Regions from separate parts of the Homo sapiens genome. Here region 2 is linked to region 1. The links come from fine-mapping of genetic effects on gene expression. A gene starts in region 1. The other region holds a variant in brackets. All regions are shown on one strand. Distances are from middle to middle. Region 1 holds the start of WDR55 (WD repeat domain 55). Region 2 overlaps LOC105378198 (a long non-coding RNA gene).

Region 1 (8,336 bases):
AGAGGCTAAGGTGGAAGGACAATCTGAGCCTGGGGACATTGAGGCTGCAGTGAGCCAAGATCAAGCCAGCGCACTCCAGCCTGGACGATGGCAAAACCCTGTCTTTTCAAAAAATAATTCATATCCTCTCTGGGGATGCAGCCCAATAAGCAAGACTCTTGCCTGGTGAGGACCCGTCTCAAGATTCAATTCATTCCTTCAGTCACTGTCATCCCCAGTCTCCTCCTTTTCTTCCTGAGCCATGGAGTCTTCTCCCTCTTCCCTCAGTCCTGCGAAGAAGTCATCGGTGCTCCAAGTCTTGCTGCTCAGAGCCCGCAGTGGTCCTCCCTTTTTTTTGCGCCGACGGTAGTCATCCACCACCACAGCTCGCAGCTGGGCCATGTCCCAAAACTTGAGGCGCTGGTCATGGCCACTACTGGCCAGGAAGCGGCCACAGTGGGAGAGGGCCAGCTCCTCCACAGGCTCCCCAGTGTGCTGGCCCACACTGCCCACCACTCGGTTCGGTAGGATGTTCACAGCCCTGGGCAGGGAAAGAACAGTGTTGAGTACTGGCTAGCTGGGTCTGCCCTTCCTGTGACCTAAGGGCTGTCCAGGCTTCCCTCACCTGATGACTCCATCAGTGGAGCCAGTACACAGCAGACTCTCGGTGACTGGAACCATGCAGTCGATAGATTCAGCTCTCAGGGCAAAGCGGTCACTTGTGGCCCCAAAGCCATTCCAATTGAAGAGGTAGATGGTACCTTCACTGGAGCCACAGGCTACCTTCTTCCCCCACTGCAGGGAAATAGAGAAAACAATGTGGAAGCTGCCTCAGACTAAGCCCCCAGCACACACCCCTCCATCCCACCATAACCAGCTGTACTTTCATGAGAGTGACAGAGGTCAGGTCCCCAGACTGAGGTTCTGAGAGCAGCTCAAACCGACGCCTCTTAATGTTGAAGATGCCAAGGCAGCCATCCCCGCTGTAGAGAGTAGAGCAGTAGGCTTAGACGCAAGGTCTATTTGAGGAAGACATTTCACACAGGGAGGGGAGGGGAGGCAAGGCAGCTTTGAAGTTGTACCTGGCTGTCAGCAGCAGCTTTTTGGCTGGATCCAGAGCCATGTCTGCGATGTACTCTTCATGTTGCCTCATATCCATTAAGGGGCCCTCCTTCCGCTGGTCCCAGAGACAGATACCACCTGTGTCATCCCCAGTGGCCAGAACATTCTCATCCACCAGCAGAAGACTATTGATGGGGGCACTAGAGACACAGATGTAGAACTTCTTGGAGCATCTCTGTCCCAGTGGGGACCTCCTGGTCCTTACCCTTCACCTCCATGCACATACACAGAATTGGCTGCTCTCCTTACCCATGAGCCTTGGAAACACGTCTTTCCAGTTGGCCCTGCTCCACATCTAGAACATGGATGGCTTTGTCCTTGGAGACAGTAATGAGCTCTGGGGAAAAGGTGCCCAGGTCATGGTGCTGCTCACTGCTCCCTTCCACCACATTGCTGGTTGTCTTCCCCAGTACTCACTCTGCCCATCTTCAGAGAAGGCCACAGCTCGGCAGGCCTTGAGATGGTGACCTGATGACCAGAGCTCCTTGGTTTCTCCCTCTTGGCAAGAGTAGGAAAAGCTGGGGAGAGGGCAAGGAGGGTAAATGACTCCAGACCCAGCCTGGGTTGCATTGAGTGCAGAGACCAACTAGACAGAGCAGCCTTCCCACCTACCTAAGAGTTCCTGCTTCTACACCTCTAAGCCCAAAAAGTTTACCATCTCATTTCTCCATTTTCAGTGAGTTTGAAATGTTAGGTCCTGCTTTTTTCAATATATGTTAGTTCAAGGTATATTTGCGCAAGATTTCTTTGTGATCCCACCCAACCCCTCTTTATCATCTTTGAAAGCCCCAGCCTGGACAAAGATTGGGTCTGGACCACTGTGGAGGAGATATTTGTTACATCAATGACAAAAGACCAGCCCCAGAAGTTAGAAATCTAAAAATCAGTAAGGTAGAGCAGGCTCTTGCACTTCAGGTCTGCAGGAGCTAGAGAAAGCCACAATTAATTACAGTACATTGAGAGTACGTGCTGAAAAAGAGGCAAGATCAAAATGGAGGTGGGGGAGAGGCACCAGCCTGTAAACAACTTTGAGGTGAGTACTGTTTATGGAATACCCCCAAGTGCCTGCCTCAGAGCAGATCCTCAAAAAGGGCAGAATGAATACATGCTTAATTGCCAGTGAGTTCCAGGTAGGCAGAACTGAGCCTGCTCATTTTCTCTATCCCAGTGCTGAACGTGAAAAAGTAGCTTAATAAACATTCACAAATTGAATGAATACTTGGGAAGGGAGAAGAGAGCCCTGGAAAGCTAAGGTGGTGACATGTGGGTTGGATCATACAAGAGTAGAATTTGCCTGGCAGAGAGCAAGGGCCAGATACTGGAGGCAGCAGAGATAAGGAATGAGGAGGGTTCCTTGTAGCAGGAGAGTAGCATGACTGAATCTAGAAAGATGGGCTGGGGTGGGCATGAGACCACATGAGCCAAGCAGAAGTTTGAATTTAATCCTCGGAAAAGGAACCTTTTCACAATAGTCATGGCTGAGGGTGGGGAAGGGGAGAACCAAGAATTTTCCTCCAGAACCTTTTTTAAGACAAGGGAAGCAACAAAGTTGTGTGGAATGTGAAGAAAGGTGGATGTCTAGGGCAACTCCCAAGTGCCTGGCACCATAAATATGGATAGTAGTAGAAGGGAACCTACATTTGTTGAAGAGCTGCTTAGGTGCTGTACTGCAAACTTGTCCCCTCTGCAAGGGTAGGTATAATTCCCCCTTTCAAAGATGAAAATACAGAAGTTAACACGCTCAAGGCCATTACAGCTAATGAGGGGTTGAGGTTTAAATTCATTAAGTAAATCTGATAAGCATAACATCTTCAACTTTTCCACTGCCTCTAACCTGTATCTTTTGTTCAAAATCAAACATGTGTTGAGCATCTACCCTAGACTAGAGGTTGGAGATAAAATAGAGAACAAAACCGATGACAGATTACACTCCAGAACAGTGTTTTTTCACATTCTAGTCATATAACGGACTAGTAAGCTACGATCAGCATTTTGTGTACATGTACACAATAATAGAATAAAATCAGCAATTGTATCACAGAGCATCATATATAATGTAAAAGGTATTTCTCTGTGAGGCAAGGTCAAAGACGTTTGAAAAACATTAGTGAAGGAGACAGCATTCAAATAATTACACAAATGGACATATGGTTACCAACCATTCATTATTAAGGGAAAGGTACCATGGCACCTGGTGCCATGGCAGCATCTAACAGGTAACCAATTTTAGTCTGGGGAGAGAGGAAGAGGGAAGAGATCCTGGAAACTCAGAGATAGTAGGTAAAAGTGAGGGGAAAGGAGTTTTCCGGACAGAATAGCACATGCAAATGGGCTGAGGTTTCGAGATTTTTTTTTGAGATGGAGTTTTGCTCTTGTTGCCCAGGCTGGAGTGCAATGGCACGATCTCGGCTCACTGCCACCTCCACCTCCCAGGTTCAAGCGATTCTCCTGCCTCAGCCTCCCGAGAAGCTGGGATTACAGGTGCCCGCCACCACACCCAGCTAATTTTTCTATTTTTAGTAGAGACAGGATTTCACCATGTTGGCCAGGCTGGTCTCCAACTCCTGACCTCAGGTGATACCCCACCTTGGTCTCCCAAAGTGCTGGGATTACAGGCATGAGCCACCACGCCCGGCCCAAGACGTATTTTTAAAAGGTATGGATGAATGAGCACAGATGGTCAGGGCGTTGAAGGCAGGATTGAGAAATTTGTACTAAATCCTAAAAGCAGACCATTGAAGGGTTTTAATCAAGGGAGTGTCTCACTCTATTGTCCAAGCTGGAGTGCAGTGGCACGATCTTGGCTCACTGCAACCTCCACCGCCCGAATCCAAGTGATTCTTCTGCCTCAGCCTCCCGTGTAGCTGGGATTACAGGCCCGCGCCACCACACCGGGCTAATTTTTGTATTTTTAGTAGAGACGGGGTTTCACCATGTTGAACAGGCTGGTCTCGAGCTCCAACCTCAGGTGACCCGCCCACCTCGGCCTCCCAAAGTGCGGGTATTACAGGCGTGAGCCAAGATTTGTGGTTTGAAAAATCACTTAAAGGGGCCTGCTGAGCCTGTCTCGGGCACAATATAATAATCCGGTAGGAGTCCGGGCACGGTGGTTTACGCCTGTAATCCCAGCACTCTGGGAGGAAGGCAGGTGGATCACGAGGTCAGGAGTTCAAGACCAGCCTGGCCAAGATGGTGAAACCCCGTCTCTACTACAAATACAAAAAAAATTAGCCGGGCGTGGTGGCGGGCGCTTATAATCCCAGCTACTCGGGAGGCTGAGGAAGAGAACTGCTTGAACCCGGAAGGGGGAGGTTGCAGTGAGCCCAGATCGCGCCACTGCACTCCAGCCTCGGCGACAGAGCGAGACTCCGTCTCAAAAATAAATAGGTAAGTAAATAAATAATAATCGGTGGGAAATAACAAGGCCTTAAAGGGCTTTTTGGCCTACTACGGTATCTGGGCTCTGTCACGACATTCCAGTTCTTTCAACAGATTGGTGTGATAGAAGAGCCGAATGTTACTGAATAAATTGGACCCAAAGAATCTTGCAAAATTTGTCTCCCTGCAACTTTCTCTCATCTCTCCTGTTCCCAGGTCCACCCCCGGGAAGCTTCCAGACCCGGCGCCCCGGCCCTGCCCCGCTCTCACACGAACACGTCCCCGTCCACGTCCCCTGCAGCCAGTAGGTCACGGGCCGGATGGAACGCCAGCCCACTAGCCGGAGCTTCCAGCACGATGTCTTCCGGAGTGTCCCGGATCCGGGTTGGGGCTTCCATGGAGTCTGGGTCCTCCTCGTCGCTCCCATCCTCAGCGGGCCTCTCCTCACAAGTGCGGTCCATGCTGAGAAGGACTGCGAGCCGCGCCGCCGCAGGGTAGTCAGCCTCGGAACCACCCACACTGCGGGAGGAGTAGCCTGGCACTCCGCTTCCGCCTCGGGGGGCGGGGCCGGAAGTGTCTCCGGGACGTTCTTCCTCTTACAGGAGAGGTGGGTGGGCCGCTGCTGGTGCGGGTGGAGCGGAGCGAAGAGACCGCATCTGGGAGATCGGCTACTTCCTTGTCCTGCTGTGACCCCGTTTGGGCTAGGTAGACGGTGCGACCGTCAATTCCCTCCCTAGTCACGTCACGTAAAGTTGAGAACTGCGTGTAAATCTTTCCTCTCCTACTTCATCCAGACAGGCTTAATGCCCTTGGGATAGGAGAGAGGGACGCTAGTCCTTCGTGGCTTGGTGAAACCCAAGATCAAGTCAAGCGACAGCCTGGGCTGTCAGGAAGCCGCAAAATCCCACGCTGCGCGATGACATACGGGAGTCTGGGACAGCAGGCAGCTCAAGCAGCTGGTGTCCACGCCCCTAACGTCTTTGTGGCCAGTTTGCTGTGCCAGTTCCTACAATTTGTCTACAGAAACTCAATGGGCTGGACAAGCAGTGCTCAGTTACCAAGAATTTTTTTTTCTTTTTTGTTTTGCTTTGTTTTGAGACAGGGTCTTGCGCTGTCGCGCAGGCTGGAGTGCAGTGGCACGATCACCGCTCGGCTCAAGCGATCCTCCGAGTAGCTGGAACTACAGGCACGCGGCACCACGCCTGGCTAATTTTTATTTATTTATTGAGACGGAGTCTCGCCCTGGCTGGAGTGCAATGGTGCGATCTCGGCTCACTGCAACCTCCGTCTCCCGGGTTCAAGAGATTTTCCTGCCTCAGCCTACCGAGTAGATGGGACTAGAGGCGCATGCCACCACGCCCAGCTAATTTTTTGTATCTTTAGTAGAAACAGGGTTTCACCATGTTGGCCAGGCTGGTCTCAAACTCCTGACCTCGTGATCCGCCCGCCTTGGCCTCCCAAAGTGCTGGGACTACAGGCGTGAGCCACCGCACCTGGCCAATTTTTGTATATTTTGTAGAAACGAGGACTCAGTATGTTGCCCAGGCTGGCCTTGAACTCTTGACGTGTCTTCCCACCTCAGCCTCCCAAAGTGCTAGGATTATAGGCGTGAGCCACGGCGCCCAGCCCCTGAATTTCTTTTTTTAAATCAAGGTCTTGCTCTGTCACCCAGGCTCAGAATGCAGTGGTGTGATCATAGCTCACTACAGCCTTGAACTCTTCGGTTCGATCCTCCTGCATAGCTATAGACTCATGAACTCCTGGCCTCAAGAGACTCTCCTGCTTTGGCCTCCCAAAGCACTGAGACTGTGGGCATGAGCCATCGAGCCTGGCCTCAGAAACTGAATTTCAAACCCACAATCTCCAGGTCTTGCTTTTAGTGACTCTCCAGATGTCTTCACCTGTGCCATGTCTCTGTGACCATTTTTAATAATTGGGACTGCCTACCTACATCCATAGAACCATGGTGTCATTTGTCTGAAATTAGCCATTCTAGGTGCTATTGCAGCAAGGCCCAATTTCAGCCTCTTACATGCCATGCACAATACTGGCTTCCTCACAAAAACCTGTCCTACCAAGGTGAATATAATCAAAGACAAGGTAATGGCTAAGGTGACTTTCTAGCTTTCTTGGATCTGGTGAGGCCACAAATCTTGGGCTCAGGGTAGACAGTGGCAGCGTGGCATCCAGCCAGGAAGCAGTAGTGACACCTAATGATGAGCACCAGGCCAAAGTGCTGGTAATGAGCAGAAGGGAAGAAAAGGGAAGGGAATGGTGTGATTCAAAGGTCAACAGACCTATTCTGGGCCTTGGCAAATGTTTCAGGGTGATGAAGGGCACCAAACCCTTCTGGTCTAGGATAGGAATTCCTGTACCTGCAGGGCCACACTATATCAGCTCTAAACCCAAAGCACTTCCCTAAGGTTACACCTTTAGCCAAGGAGACAGTGATTTGTACTCAACATTAATAAAGCTCATAGTACATAAACTCATAAAAGGTTTTGGTTCCCACCCATAAGTGATTTTCATTAGATGCCTTCATCCAGAGCCCAGTCCTTCATAGCCTGGAGATCAGATTAGCAGCCCATCAGGCTGACAGCAATCCCCAGGAAATCTTTCCCCAGGGACTAGGCCTGAAGATGGGCCGGAATGAGTCTGACATTTGAGACCAATCATACTTACATTCCTCTATCCACCTCTTGCCCATCAGTGAGGATCATTATTCTCTTCTCTACTGGGCACACTGGCTAGAGAGCATCCTTACTGTCTAGGAATCTAGAACCACAGCTCAGGAAAGGACTGATGACTTTCTGCATGTGATTTTACACAACCAGTGGAATTAGTGTTCTTGGTGCTTCAAGGGCACTGGAGGGGACATGCTCAACAAAGAAAATAGCAAGTTAACCAATTTTAATGGAACCAAGTAATTACACAATAAAATTTTATATTCATCCACAAAAAAACATCTTGCAACCTTTGGAAATTGTAGAAAGAAAACAGTGGGGAGCATATCCTTGTGGAGCATCTCTGGTTGTAACTAGTGATTAGTATTTTGGTCTTTTGACTTCAACCCTGCAATGGAAGGAGAAATGGGTCAGTATAAGATCAATACACTAAGCAATTCCCACCAGTCCCACAGAGGAAGAATAATGCCGCTCACCCATCAGCTTCCATCTTCTTCCTCTTCTCAATGATCTGCAAAAACAACAGGATAGTCTATCACCAAGCTGCCCATCTAAGCTCACCTGAGGCCCAAGGCTGACCTCTCATTTCCATGGCTCTCCAGCCCCTTGCCTGTTCCTGAATCTGCAGGCTAATGTCTTCTCCCAGCTGAAACCCTCCCACCCAAGGGGCCATCCTACTTACTGCACTAATCTTCTTCCACTGGCGATCAAGCTCTGCTTTGTCATTGGTTTCCTTGAAGCGCCTGGTTTTCCGCCCTTCAGACATTTTGATACCATACTGGAATGCAGCCCTGAAAAAAGCAGTTGGGAAAGAATGCATCAGAGATTGCATAGCAGTGGCGAGGTTTTCCCAGAGTCCTGTGGGCAAAGAACTTAGTGGGGAACATCTCAGCCAGACCACACCCTCTAACCTTATATGCACTATTCCACCAAATCCCCACACCCCTCCTCACACCCTGCCCATATTCAGTACCGACTCACTTGGGCAAAGCTTCTTTGTTGTTCATATACTCGCTGTATTCTTCCTGGGTATCAAAGTCCCAACGGCCTAAGGGCCCCTTCTTGTTACCCTGTTGCAGGACAGAATCGGGGGATGGGGAAGGAAGAGATGTCAGTGGAAATGGAATTTCAGCCCTTGATTGAAGCCAGACTCTCCCATAATCCCAGGTTCCA
Region 2 (8,336 bases), 67 kb before region 1:
GTCTGTGGTCGGTGGTCAGTATAACAATGGAATGTTTAATAAGGCTGGTCAGTAGTCATGGTGAAACCACGATAAAAGAGGGGAGGTCAGCCATGACATCAAGAGGTCTCTTGAGGTTGAGGGAGAAATCTTCCAGACAGTTTTTTAGGAACTCGTTTCTGTTTAATTGTAGGAAGGAAAGTTTTGAGGCAGTTAACAAGGTAGGGGAGTGTTGAGGTGTGACTGACCTCTTGCCTTGCCAAAGCCATAGAATGCAGTTTTCAAAGTTTCTGGGGTCTCTTTTGCAACAAGAAGTCCATTCTGTTTCACCTAGGGGCTTAGGGACTTTAGTTTTATTTCACACTTTCCAGCTTTAGGCTGAAATCTGCCATAGGCAGCATTGATGGCTAAATTTTCTAACATGTCCCATGTCGTTCCCAGGATGGTGTGGATACCTGCCCCAGGTCTATCTAGTCTGTCAGTGGGACTCATGTGGCTAGGAGACTTACAACCAGTTGAATATTTTAGGCCAGGCAAGAAGGAGGCAGACAGCTATTAAGACCCTTTGAACCTTTGAGACTAGAAAAACAGTAACAACAGAAAAGTTGAGAAGGTAAGTTTATGTTTATGTTGTCTGTCATTTCTATGCATTGTGCTACCATAACTTTGGTTTTAGTGACAGACTTGAAGTAGTTGGTTATAGATCTTATAAGTACTTTGACTATCAAAAATAGGAACAAGATAGTGATATGATAATGACAAGGGTTTGTAAGATGGATTGGAAGTAATTTCTAATACTGCAATGAGTCAGCTAAAAACGTTATTAAGGGGATCTGTGGTTTGTACCTCCTGTAACCAGGCAGCCTGTTGGGTGATCTTACCTACATGGGTTGTTAAATCTCCTATAATGTTGATATAAGTGCAACAAGTGGTGTGGGCTATCATGCAAATTCCCCCTTGTTTAGCAATGAGAAAACCTGGTGCAATTTGATTGTCTAAAACCACTTGAGCGAGAGAATTTAAGGACTTCTACTGTGTCATAATACTTATTGCAGCATTTTCAGCAATTTGTCCTATGGTGGCCGGCATTTTTTTTTATCGTATCTCTGTTAGTGTATACTCCGTAGCTGAGAAAAATTACACCCCAAAAACTATGCTACCACATATCCTGATATCCACTTGGTAGCTCTCTTTTAGCTTACCGGAAAGCAAGATTTTCTTTATGATTGAGATGGATGGAAAAGAGGGCAACGTAATGACCTAGAAGGCAAAGTCCTTCAACTTGCCAGCTGTTTATGCATCTGTGTGCCTCTTCTTGAACTGGGGGATCTGACTCAATTCTATATAGGAAAGTGTGTCCTCAAGGGGCACAAGTTATACCTCCAAGGGTATGCCAATTTATACGTTCATTTATGAACAAGATATCTATTATGTGAGTGAACCACGAACTGGTTTTGTTGCAAGCCTTCTAGAAGCCTGCAGAGGCATGATATCTAACAAAGAGGAGCTGTTGTCAGTGTTTGATATTTTTTCTTTGGGCATTCAGTGGTTATGTACAGTAGCAAGGGTGGGAGTCCCAGAATCTAAGGAGAAAGCTACATAGACATAAAAATCTTAATCTTTTTAAAACTCAGTTTTCTGGTTTGGTGCAGTGGCTCATACCTGTAATTCCAGCACTTTGGGAGGCTGAGGTGGGAGAATTGCTTGAGCCCAAGAGTTTGAGACCAGCCTGGGCAATATACTGAGACCTAATCTCTACAAAAACCTTTTCAAAAGAATAGTAAAATTACCTTTTACTCAAAAGGGTAAGGGTTAAGGTGTGGGTTTGGTAACAGAAGTGGTCAATAAAACTAAAATTGTGAGGAGTGAAACAGAGGAGTCCATTTTAGTTATAAAAAAATTAAACCAAGAGAGAAATCATAAATTCCATACAAATTGCTGAGGGTCACTATCTAGAGTCTGGGGGTATTCTTTAAGGTAATGGAGTATTTGATTAACAAGGAGCATGGTAACTATGTTTTCTAAAGTGAGGATTATAGGCTCTGGGAAAGGGATTTTGGACTTGGAGGTGGATGAGAAATTTTAGAAGTATCTAAAAATGGAATACAAGGGTAAGCATTGTAGCACAACATAGGATCTCCAGAATACATAATATTCCCAACGTCAGGGTAATCAGTCAATAACGCAGGTACTTGAGGCAATGGCAATGGTAATTTGTCTTAAGTCAAAAGTGGGCGAGTTAAAATACAGCCCTGGTCCAGCATCTTGGACAGGCAGTCCACCTCAGCTGTCATCTTCTTCTCAGCCATGAGGTGGAACCCTAGTCTAAGTCTGGTGTCAGATACTGGTGTTGAGGTCCAGTCTTCCGCGGAGGGAAGAACTTCGTTATTCCAAGTGAGAAATTGGTATTCAAATATGTTAAAGTCTTTTCGATAGAAAGCAATTTGGATTATAGCTTATTGCAAATGTTTTTAGAGAAGAATTAAAAACAGTAACTGTAGATGACAAAAACTTAGAATGGCTATGGTTAAAATCTAATGAAAGTTCTCAATTGACAAGAACATTTAGTTATTTACATTATATGTAGTATTTTAAGATAACAACCAAAATTATGACTGATAACACATTAGATCTTTCTGAATTTATATAAATTTTGAACCATTTATATCAACAACATATCATAGTGTAATTAAAAGAAGATCTAGTATTGCTTATTATTTGACAATGTTTTTATATAATTTACCAAATAAGCCTAATCATTTAAAATATCTCTATAAAATGAGAGATATATCTGTTGAAGCTTTTTAGGGGCCCAATTAGAAAATCTTAAAGTTAATTCTAAGTAAAAAGACTTAATTTAGGATTGATTTTGAGGATGTTTGTCAAAGATGTTAAAAGGCCCAAAATATTTGATCAAAACAGGATCACGGGTCATTGTAAAATAATATTCATTTAACCGAAGTGACAATCAAAAGACTTTAAAAGTAATACAGAAAGCTACATAAACATAAAAATATTAATCTTCTTAAAACTCAGTTTTCTGACTTGGTGCAGTGGCTCACGCCTGTAATTCCAGCACTCTGGGAGGCCGAGATGGAGAATTGCTTAAGCCCAAGAGTTTGAGACCAGCCTGGGCAATATACTGAGACCTCATCTCTACAAAAACCTTTAAAAAAAAATTAGCCTAGGATGGTGGCACATGACTGTAGTCCCAGGCGTTTAACTGTAGGAAAGAAAGTCTTGAAGCAGTTAATGAGGTAGGGGAGTTTTGAGGTGTGACCGAACTCTTACCTTGCCAAAGCCATAGAATCCAGCTTTTAAAGTTTTCTGGGGTCTCTTTTGCAACAAGGAGTCCATTTCATCTTGCCTGGGGACCTACGGGCTTTATTTTTATTTCACAGAGGGAAAAAGGGAACCTCATAACTGGTCAGCATGGATAAAAATTTTGTCCCCTATTTGGCCTTCTTTAACACCACGTTGGTGGGGTCTTGGGGTAACTTCTTATAGCCGCTCAGTGGTGGAAGTTTAGGCTCCTACTCAGCCTTTGCTGAAGTGGGTGGGGCCATAGTTGTTGGAGTGTGTGTGTGTGTGTGTGTGTGTGTGTGTTTGGTGTTTGGCTGGGGTAGAACAGTTATTGTCTAAGAATTTTATGTCTTTCTAAGCTGTCCTCTTCCTGATCCTGGTCCTATGAATAGAGAAAGCAGACTTTTGCTGGGGCTTTTAAAATCTGCGTCCATTGGCATTTCCAGATTGCCAGCTTCTTCAGTTCCAAGTCTGGAATACAAAAGGAAAAAAAAACTTACGACTGTGTTGTACCTTGAGTCTTGAGATCCCTAGCTGGTCTGCCTTTTGTCTGCCTTTCATTGTATTACATTTGTTTTATGTACAATGCTTTGGGGTTTTAGCAGGATGAATGGGGAATATTACATTTACTCCACCTTCCTGGAAGCAGAAGTATGTGTAATATTTTGAATAAATACCATAAACTATTCCATGCATTCATGAAATATGCAATTTCTCATTCACCAATGTAAATGGCTTGATTCACCATTATAGAACCATGCATAAGTACAACAAGGAAGTTTTATTTAGGGAAACTCAAGCAAAAATAAAAAGGCAATTTGTCAAATGTAAAAAGGTATTTGCCTGCAAATATAAGAAGTATAGACCAAGCGCAGTGGCTCACGCCTGTAATCCCTGCATTTTGGGAGGCCAAGGTGGATGGATCACCTGAGGTCAGAGTTCGAGACCAGCCTGGCTAACATGATGAAATCCCGTCTCTACTAAAAATACAAAAAATTAGCTGAGCGTGGTGGCACGCACCTGTAATCCCAGCTACTCACTCAGGAGGCTGAGGCAGGAGAATCACTTGAACCCAGGAGGCAGAGGTTGCAGTGAGCCGAGATCCTGCCACTGCACTCCA[G/A]CCTGGGCAACAACAGCAAAACTCCGTCTCAAAAAAAAAAAAAAAAAAAAAGAAGTATAATAAACACTTTCTATGTTCCAAACCTCTTGCTAAGCACTGTTGTAGCTCTCATAACCTATACTATATTGAGGAGCCCAAATTGCTTTCGAAAGTATTTCTACTTTCAAAAGTATTAAGTCTTTTGACTTACTTTCCATACAGCAATGCAAATAAGCAACTGCTACGCACAACAAAATAGATGAATCTAGAAACATAATGAGGGTCTTTGGCCATACCATCTTGAACGTGCCCGGTCTCCTCTGATCTTGGAAGCTAAGTAGGGTCAGGCCTGGTTAGTACCTGGATGGGAACATAAGGAGGAATGAGAAAATCAGTCACGTATTATTCCATTAATACAAAGTTGAAAAAACAAAACAATCGTAATATTAGAAATCACCTCAAGGCTTTCTTCTGAGGACAAGTGTGAGAGAAGTGACTACAGGAGGCTCTAGAAGGGCTTTATGGAACAGTCCTATTTATAGACATGTGGTGATTTCATGGTTTTCTTTACTTTGTATTAATTCATAGAGCTGTAAATTTATGATTTGGGTACTTTTTTGAAAATATACTATTTTATCTAAAGATGTATTTTTAAAAAAAGACGCACACTATTCAGCATTCAAGGTTAAATAAGAAAATACATTACGTGGGCCGGGTACAGTGGCTCACGCCTTTAATCCCAGCACTTTGGGAGGCCGAGGTGGGCAGATCACGAGGTCAGGAGATCAAGACCATCCTGGCTAACACGGTGAAACCCCGTCTCTACTAAAAATACAAAAATTAGCCGGGCGTGGCGGTGTGCACCTGTAGTCCCAGCTGCTGGGGAGGCTGAGGCAGGAGAATGGCTTGAACCCGGGAGGCAGAGCTTGAAGTGAGCCGAGATCGCGCCACTGCACTCCAGCCTGGGCGACAGAGCAAGACTCCGTCCCAAAAAAAAAAAAAAAGAAAAAGAAAAAGAAAATACATTATGTGAATTTATTCTATATACTTAAAATGAAGATTTTGTCTTTTTTCATGAAAATACAATGAGGTACCAAATTACAGCCATAAAATTGACAAAAATTTTTAAAGTTGTACAATGCCAAATATTGGGGACATGATACACTGCTGGTAGATGTGTAAGCTGGTAGAAATACTTTGGAAAACCACTGGGCAAAACTATAGAACTGAAGACATGAATCCACTAAATACTTAGCAGTTTGACTCCTAGGTATGTACCCTGGAGAAATATATGCTGAAGTGCCGCAGGACATATGTATAAGATGGGAATATCTGTTTTTTCTGGGTTTCAGTTATTATGAACAATGAACCAAAACTAGAAATGCTACAAATATCCATCAATATTAAAATGAATAAGTAAATCATCTTATATTCATTAAATGGAATAGTAACCCACAACATAAACAAAATGGATAAATCTTACAAATGTATTATTGAACAAAAGAAGCAAAACAAAACAAACACTTCAATATAACTATATTTATGAAAGTAATCAAAATAGGAAAACTAAATTATAGCACCCAGGCATTCATACATAAGTGGTAAAGATATAAAGAAGAGTGAGAAAATTATTATTATAAAAATCAGGTAAATGGAGGGGGCGGGCACAGTGGCTCACGCCTGTAATTCCAGCACTTTGGGAAGCCGAGGTGGGCGGATCACTTGAGGTCAGGAGTTCGAGACAAGCCTGGCCAAAATATTGAAACGCTGTCTCTACTAAAAACACAAAAATTAGCTGGGCATGGTGGCACATGCCTGTAATCCTAGCTACTCAGGAGGCTGAGAGAGGAGAATCACTTGAGCCCAGGAGGCAGAGCTTGCAGTGAGCTGAGATACCCCCACTGCACTCTTGCCTGGGTGAAAGAGCAAGACTCTGTCTCAAAAATAATAATAATAGTAATAGAAATATTAATAAATAAATAAAAATCAGGTAAACAGGGCTGGGCACAATGGTGCATGCCTACAGTCTCAGCACTGGAGAGGTTGAAGCAAAAGGATCACTTGAGCCCAGGAATTCAAGGCTGTTGCCACTATGATTATACCTGTGAATGGCTACTATACTGCAGCCTGGGCAACATAGCAAGACCATCTTCTCTAAATACAATAAAAATAAATAAGATAAACAATCAGGTGAATGGTTAATTCCAAAAGAAAGTGAAGGGATTGTAAAAATCAAAAGAGAGAGAGGGTTTCTGGGATGTTGGCAATGTTTTCTTACCTTAGTAGTGATTATATGGATTCATTTTATAAGCATTTATTTAAATCTATGTATTTACCTCATGAATTTTCTGCATGTATGTTATATCTCACAGTTTAAAAATGTTTAATTAGTGAACAGTAGAAAATTGATACAGTCATCATAAGCATACATGCATCTACAATACAGTCTTGAACTACATCAAATAGGAAAAAATACATAAATCACCAATTGTAGTTGGAAATGTTTTAATATGCATCTCTAAGGACTGTAGATCACATAGACCTGAAAATAGTATGGATATGAATGAGCTGAAAAGAAAAACAATTTTAAAAATATGTAGACCCAAAATAAACAGGCATTATTTTTGAATATATATATAACACTTACAACAATAGACCATGTGTTAGGCTATAAATTCCACAGATCTGATCCCATTCAGACAATGTTCTCCTATTACAATGCATCCTGGAATTAACATTTGTAAAAACAATAGCTAAAATAAAATCCCATGTGTTTGGAAACTAAATAACATATTACTAAATAAGATTCTGCTTAAAAAATACTTAGAAGTGAATGAAACACTACATGAAGAATTTGTGTACTACAACTAAAGCAGTACTTAAAGGTAAACTTGCAGTTTTAAATACACTAATGATTAAGAAAGATTAAAATCAAATGAGCTGCCACAGGAGATACAACCTCACACCCTTCAGGATAGCTGCTATCAATCACACACACACACACACACACACACACAGAGAGAGAGAGAATAAGTGTTAGTGAAGACATGGAGAAATTGAAGCATTTCTGCACTATTGGTGGGAATGTAAAGTGATACAGCTGCTATGGAAAACAGTACAGCAGTCACTTAAATAATTAAAAGTACAATTACCATATAACCCAGCAATTCCACTTCTGGGTATATACCCAAAGGAATTGAAAGCAGAAACACAAACAGATATTTGTACACTCATGTTCATAGCAGCATTGTTCATAATAGGCAAGAGGTCAAAACAACCCAAATGTCCATTGATGGACAATGACTAAACAAAACATTCCATTTTAATAGTATTCCATTGTAGTATTCACATACAATAAAATATTATTTATCCTTTTTCAAAAGGAATGAAATTGTAGTACATGATACAACGTGGATGAACCTTAAGAACATTGTGCTGGCTGGGTGCGGTGGCTCATGCCTGTAATCCCAGGAGAATCATGGGGTCAGGAGATCGACACCATCCTGGCTAACAGAGTGAAACCCAGTCTCTAGTAAAGTTACAAAAAATTAGCAGGACATGGTGGCAGGAGGCTGAAGTCCCAGCTACTTGGGAGGCTCAGGCAGGAGAATCGCTTGAACCCAGGAGGTGGAGGTTGCAGTAAGCCGAGATTGTGCCACTGCACTCCAGCCTGGGTGACTGAGCCAGACTCCATCTCAAAACAAAACAAAACAAAACAAAATAAAACATAGTGCTAAGTGAAATAAACGAGTCACAAAAAGACAACTACTGTATGATTCCACTTCTATGAGATACCTAGAGTAGTCAAATTTATAGAGACGGAAAGCAGAATGGCAGTTGCCAGGGATTAGGGATAGAGGGAGGTGGAGAGTTATTAGTTAATGGGTATAGAGTTTCAGTTTTGAAAGATGAAGAGTTCTGGAGATGGATAGTGGTGATGGTTGCAAAACGGTGT

Evidence for each region. PIP is the estimated chance that this variant, and not a neighbour inherited with it, causes the effect.
Region 2: its variant is fine-mapped to the expression of WDR55 in testis (GTEx, PIP 0.95).

Annotation. Positions count from the first base shown.
Region 1 is chr5:140,661,517-140,669,852 of GRCh38, reverse strand. WDR55 (WD repeat domain 55) reads right to left here and starts at 4,949. Exons shown (of 7, transcript NM_017706.5): 1 at 4,750-4,949; 2 at 1,519-1,619; 3 at 1,351-1,438; 4 at 1,062-1,241; 5 at 863-962; 6 at 605-774; 7 at 1-520. The coding sequence starts at 4,940. The coding sequence ends at 199. IK (IK cytokine) reads right to left here. Exons shown (of 20, transcript NM_006083.4): 17 at 8,145-8,233; 18 at 7,846-7,954; 19 at 7,640-7,674; 20 at 7,373-7,551. The coding sequence ends at 7,524. LOC124901088 (a long non-coding RNA gene) reads left to right here and starts at 4,416. Exons shown (of 2, transcript XR_007058968.1): 1 at 4,416-4,488; 2 at 4,696-7,442. RefSeq lists enhancers at 4,815-4,944, 5,295-5,454, 4,872-5,538.
Region 2 is chr5:140,728,502-140,736,837 of GRCh38, reverse strand. LOC105378198 (a long non-coding RNA gene) reads right to left here. Exons shown (of 4, transcript XR_001742904.2): 2 at 4,678-4,741; 3 at 3,271-3,753. Among named protein-coding and RNA genes, the nearest start is that of ZMAT2, 32 kb to the right of the region's middle. The variant G/A (reference allele first, on the strand shown) is at 4,403.